2 separate regions of the Homo sapiens genome follow, and region 2 is reported to be linked to region 1. The links are microRNA targets in miRTarBase. Many come from high-throughput screens and were not tested one by one. Region 1 holds a microRNA gene; the other region holds the end of a gene's coding sequence.
Evidence for each region. Region 1 holds the annotated microRNA hsa-miR-130a-3p (CAGUGCAAUGUUAAAAGGGCAU, at 1,434-1,455, opposite strand). A microRNA usually pairs through its seed, bases 2 to 8, with sites in the 3' UTR of a target mRNA and lowers its output. Matches are read on the target gene's strand: a 7mer-m8 pairs with bases 2 to 8, a 7mer-A1 pairs with bases 2 to 7 and ends in A, and an 8mer does both.

Region 2: miRTarBase lists KCNB1 as a target of hsa-miR-130a-3p. Seed matches in the 3' UTR shown: 7mer-m8 at 1,565-1,571.

What each region holds. Positions count from the first base shown.
Region 1 is chr11:57,639,579-57,642,706 of GRCh38, reverse strand. It overlaps MIR130A (microRNA 130a), which reads right to left and starts at 1,509; the gene lies at 1,421-1,509. All of the region lies in intron 1 of MIR130AHG (MIR130A host gene), which reads right to left. RefSeq lists an enhancer at 2,712-3,128.
Region 2 is chr20:49,370,329-49,373,456 of GRCh38, reverse strand. It overlaps KCNB1 (potassium voltage-gated channel subfamily B member 1), which reads left to right. Exons shown (of 2, transcript NM_004975.4): 2 at 1-3,128. The coding sequence ends at 474. All of the region lies in intron 2 of LOC105372649 (a long non-coding RNA gene), which reads right to left. Among named protein-coding and RNA genes, the nearest start is that of SNORD12, 91 kb to the right of the region's middle.

The sequences.
Region 1 (3,128 bases):
CTGCTGTTGAAAACCAGGCACAAACTAGCTGCCTTCTTCACTTGATCTTAGCCAAAAGACCAGGAATACTAGCTGCCTTCTTAAAGAAGCTCCCCAAATATTCCTCTCATTCAATTTATTTTAACAAGTTTTAATTAAGCCTACTAGGCACTGTGGGAGACAGAGAAGTAAATGGCTGAGTCATTGCTCTCAAATTTTTCTTTCTTTTTTTTTTTTTTTGAGATGGAGTCTCGCTCTGTTGCCCAGGCTGGAGTGCAGTGGCGCAATCTCGGCTCACTTCAACTTCTGCCTCCAAGATTCATTCAAGAGTCTCCTGCCTCAGCCACCCAAGTAGCTGAGACTACAGGCGTGCATTACCACGCCTGGCTAATTTTTGTATTTTTAGTAGAGACGAGGTTTCACCATGTTGGCCAGGCTGGTCTTGAACCCCTGACCTCAGGTGATCCGCCCGCCTCGGCCTCCCAAAGTGTTGGGATTACAGGCGTGAGCCACCGCACCCGGCCTCAATTTCCTTGTAATTGGTCCTGGGAGAATCATTCTGTGGGTTGATTCAAGGGATCCTATTAATCTTTAAGATTAAGTCATGGGCAACGCTGTCCAAATCTTGGATGCCCAGACAGGTGTGCCCTCAAGCAGCATTACCATCAAACACCCCGTGACCAAGAGGGAGTGGTGCTGAGAAAGGTAAGTGGATTCAGGGAAGGAGTGAGGTCTTTCCATGCCTCATGAGCCAGGGAAGGAGCTGTAGGTATGGGATGCCAGCAGCACACAGGTCCTTTTCTTTGGGGAGCAATCCTCTCGAGTTAACCCCCTTTCCTTTCTGGTGCATTCCTTTTTTTCTCAAGGAGGCCTACTCTGTACCTAATAGTGATTCTCCTAATCTTTTTCCACTCACTCTCCATTCCGGGCTGAGTCTGGGAATGCTTATCCTTCTTAGCCTAAGGAGTTGCCACCACTTCTGGTCCTTAAAGGTTTGAGGCTTTGGAAGATATCCTCATACAACCAGCAGATGGCATCAAAACCTTCCACCCCTCAGCTCAGGAAATCTCCCAGTTTGAAGAACCTATTCAGATCTCTCCAGATGGGTCTACAAAAAGATGAGTGAGCTGTCAAGACTTAACACAGGGTTGTATCTAGGCTTTGCAACCTAAGAGCTACACAATCTTAGCCAAACTGTTTAAACCTTTCTGACCCTCAGTTTTTCATCCATAAAATGGGGCTGTTACCTCCCAGAAGTTATTAGGTTTCACAGTAACGGAGGCAGTGTCTATCACAAGCACTGCATACAGAAGTAGTTCCATAAATGAGAGCTATTAGTATAACTAACAAGTGAGGCTACCCAGATTCCCACCAGGGTAGCTGACTGGTGCCCAGATGGGAGAGGAATTGCAATGCTGAGGAGGCAGCCAGCGCTGGGTAGCACTACACGGCCAATGCCCTTTTAACATTGCACTGCTAGTGACAGGTGCAGACAGTAGCACAATGTGAAAAGAGCTCTGGCCAGCAGCAGAGGCATGCCGGCCCTGCCTCCTCACTCCTTCTCCCAGTCCCTGGCCCACTCAGCTCACGGGCTCCCTCTGCCCCTTCTTTGCTTCAATACAGCTTTTTTCCCTTTTATTCCATTCTTAGTGTTCATTCTATTTTTTCACCACTCTTCCTTTTGCCGCCTTCTTCACCAACCCCCTGACCCCCAGCACAGAGACCACCTTTTTCTTGGAGGTTTTGGCATGGGAGGACAGGACCCACTAAAGCAGCTGCAGGGATACTTCGGGCTTGATGCTCAGTCCTCAAAGAAAACGGCTATTAGCAATCCCCAAAGTCTGGAGGTCACTCGTATGAGGCTGTGTTCATCTGGATTTGCATTTCCGCTAGCTTACCTTCTAGAGAGGAGCTTGCTGCCCAAGACTACAGAACCCTCTACTCTTCTCTAAGTTTCCATCTCCTTTTAAATTTAGATAAAGCAGAGCTCTAGGCCTCAAGGCAACACTCTCAGATGACCTTCCAGGACCAGAGAGGTGGGAGCCTGTAGTCACAGCTCCCCACGCAGTAGAGAGAAGCTTCCAGGCGGGGAGGTGAAAGCTGCTGGTGAAGCCCCACCCCTGCATCTCCTTTTGGAGGTCCTGAAAGCACTTTGCAGATTCAGCATTAAAATGGTGAGGGTGATTCGCTCACAGTTACTGAGAGTTAGGGATAGGCTTTCACTGGCAGTGGGATTCACATCTGAGTTATTTCCTGTCTTATCCAGGGACCCTTGGTTGGGGAGTCTTCAAGCTCATCCTAGCACTTCCCCATCCTATCCAACCCTAAGGGGGCTTAAATACAGGACAAACAGTCCCCGGAAGATTAACACCCAAAGCCAGAAAGCTGCCCTGGAAGGACACCTGGATATCTGGAGGCTCAGACCCAGGCAGGCTCTATTGTGGCACATTCCAGCTAGGGCCACAGCCCCGGAGCCCAGCTCCAGTTCTGACCCAGTGAACTTTGGGCAGCCCAGAGAAACAGAGGCTGGAGGGTGATTCCTCCAGTGCCCCGATCAACGAAGGGGAGATGCCTTCTTCCCTAATCCACAGCCACCGTAAGGAATAGAGGACAGAATTCCAGTTGGGAGCTCTTCCTCTGGGCTTCCCTCTAGCCTCGTCCCACCCCCTCAGGAAGCAGGAGACGTTCCCTCCCGCTCTCCCCGGCAGAGTTTGTTCCCGTAATCTGCAAACATGGGGCCCTGCCCTACAGTTTTAATGGGCGGAAACCAAGACCCCTCGAGGGTCAGTGACCTCTCTGCTCTGGGGTTGGGCAAACCAGGCCCAGCTGGGAACTGGATCACACCAACAGGGGGCAGAGGGGCAAAGATAAGGCTGCACAGCAAGCTTCAGGGAGGCCAGGGGAAGATTCTTCCCCAAGAAGTTTCCAGGTCTCTCCTTAGGGAGTGCAGGGAGAAAGGGCCAAGAGCCCCTCAGCTCTCACACACCCAACTCATTCCTGAGGAGCAGGCCCAGCGACTCACCAGCCAGCAGGACCCCTCCCCCACCTTGGGCCCAGGAGCCAGCCCCCAGCTCCTTCCAGAAGCGAGTGTAGAGACCGAGGAGGAAATGGGGGAGGGGAGGCCCCGGCTCAAGTTCTCTCCTCTCCCC
Region 2 (3,128 bases), not on the chromosome of region 1:
GCGGCTGCTGTCGCTGGACTGGAGTGTGCCACGCTTTTGGACAAGGCTGTGCTGAGCCCAGAGTCCTCCATCTACACCACAGCAAGTGCTAAGACACCCCCCCGGTCTCCTGAGAAACACACAGCAATAGCGTTCAACTTTGAGGCGGGTGTCCACCAGTACATTGACGCAGACACAGATGATGAGGGACAGCTGCTCTACAGTGTGGACTCCAGCCCCCCCAAAAGCCTCCCTGGGAGCACCAGTCCGAAGTTCAGCACGGGGACAAGATCGGAGAAAAACCACTTTGAAAGCTCCCCTTTACCCACCTCCCCTAAGTTCTTAAGGCAGAACTGTATTTACTCCACAGAAGCATTGACTGGAAAAGGCCCCAGTGGTCAGGAAAAGTGCAAACTTGAGAACCACATCTCCCCTGACGTCCGTGTGTTGCCAGGGGGAGGAGCCCATGGAAGCACACGAGATCAGAGCATCTGAACTGCCCTGCCTTGGAGGAGAGACTTTTGGGTGAGGTCCAAAGAGGAGAGCTGTTCAGCTTACCTGCCACAGAGCTTTTCTGCATGAACTCTGGAACAGAAAGGCCCTGTAAAGCCCTCAGAGAGAAGAGAGACTCCAGAGAAGGCTCCCTAAGACCTTGAGAGCCATGACAGGTCCATCAGCATGAAGTTGGCCAAGCCATAGGGCACAGCACCTCCTTGTAACAACTCTATAGCCCTCTTTGGGAGATGACATGAGTGGAACTCACAGCCACCACTACCACCACTTTAGACAGGACCGAGGCCACATACTCCCCATTCTCTCGTGGCTTTCCATCTCAGCCTCGGAGGGCAACATTGACAGTCCTCCTGGCTTCAGCTAGAGAAGGATGCTGGAACAAGCGGCTGGTGTTGAAAGAGTGGGTTGACCAATTTGGTATTGAATGTTGCCCAGCCACCCCTAGGAACACCTGTCCATCACCTCCTGGATGGATTCCACTGTTAGACAGCTACAGGGAATGATTGGTCATGGGGAAGTCTCTGCGCCATAAGCCACGATCCCAGCGCAAAACCCTTACTCAAATGTCTTCATTGACTTCGGTATTTCATAGTACCTGAGATTTTATTTTGAGATACCATCAGGGTGAGTTGCACCACTTGTACTCAATTCTAATTGCCCCCTGGCAATCTGGGAAGGGTTCAGAAGGTGGGCACCCAGCCAACAGCATGAACTCAGAGCATTGTTTTAGGGTTGGAGGAGGAACACGCTTTCTTTACATCACTAGTGTAGACTCAAAAGATATGCAAGTGTCAAATATGCAAAAGAAATAGTTTATTCAAAGAGACTGTGTGTTACTGAAGAACAGCATAAAAATATGATTTTTTTACTTGCAAAAATGAAAGGAAAAAAATACCACGCATTGAAATGCCCAGTTCAGACTGAATAATTCCTGCTGCAGCAAGGAAAGTACCTACTATAATAGAAATTCTGTTTTGTTTTCTGTGGTTTTCAAGTTAAAAAAAAAAAAGTTAAAATAAAAAGCACTTTATGTTTTTCAAAAATAGGTTCTGCCAGGGACAGTGTCAACATCTTGCACTTTAAAATAAGCACTATTTCCCATAGCCCAATTGTTGGGACTGTAGTTGGATTGTTGCTACCTGCCCATTTCTGGCCAGCATGGGTAATATTGTGCTGGTATTACTGTCTGCCATATCAAAGTCTGTGGGCTCCTTCCCTGCCCCTCTGAAACCTTCCCTTAACCCTCATGGGTCAGGAGGGGTTCTTGCCCCTTGGGTGGGGCCTCTCATGAAGTCAAGTATACAGGAGACATGCACATCTCAAAAGGACACAGTGACAGTTGGACATTGGGTGTTTTACTCTGTTCTCTTTCTTGTCAACCAGCTATTGGTTTTTCAGTGTCACTGTCTGTACTAAAAGCTCAACTCTCCTTCCTGCAGCCATCGATGCAGCCAGTACAGACAAAAGCAATAAGTATTTGTGTGCATCCTGAGTGGTTCTGGTGTATTTCTTGGTGTTGGTTTTCCTGTCCTCGTTTGATGACCTGGCATTGTCCTGCCTGCTTTTAGTCCAACAGCATGGTGTTGTTGGCCATTCCTCAGTACAGTGGCATTAGGTTGAACCACTGATGAATACAATGCTATAGTGTTGGCTCACCTGTCAGTAAAGATGACATGTTATTGGTCTGCCTGTCTGTAGTACAATGGAACAATGTTGTTCTCTTAATGTAATGTTGATGGATGATGTCCCAAGTACAATAGTGTAGTTCTGTCTATCCTCAATACAGTAACAGGCATATGTCTTCCCAGTGGAAGAAAGATATGGTATTGGTTCACCTAGTCTTAAGTCTCAATATCATCTGTTGCTGGTCTGCCTGTTAGTACAATGGCATGATCCACCTCTCAGTACACAAATATCATGGAGCTGTTCTGCCTGCTCTTCATACATAAGGCATAAGGTTGAGCCACCTGCCACACATATGATGAGATGGGATCATTCCACCACCCTTAAAAATATGTCTTCTCTGCTGTATACAAACCCAATTCATAACACTTCTCAGCATCTCCAGAGACTGTAGATCCCCCCAAGAGGGTGCAGTCCTGTTCTTTGCCGCATTAACAGAGAAAACGAGAACGTCACTCTTCCTAGGTATCTTCAGAGTATTCGCGCAGCAACTGCAAAGGGACTTAGGGGCAGGGAGAGTGTGAGGTCATCCCGTGCCAGGCAGAGGAAGCAGCACTCCCAAAACACTTTGCTGAACACGCAGTCTGAGCTGGGGGCCTCTTGAGGAATGACTGTGGGACAGTTCTCCGCCGACCATCTCACATGTCTCTTCTTTGTTTTCATCACCATTAATGTCCACCATCAGCACAAATGTGAAAATTCAGGGAAAAAAACAAATGCTTTTTGATAAAAGTAAATAGTTGTGATTTCCAATTCAGATATTTTTAGAGCTGATGCTATCTGTAAAAAATAATAATAATAATAATATAGTCTATTTTACATATCAGGAAAGTGAACATGTTTCAATATAGCCATATATATTGAGAAGGAACTTACCACCCCTTCTTCCAATCGAGGCATTTCATTTGTTGGTTGAAGCAGATGAGAACTGTACAGATTGAAAATGATTTGTT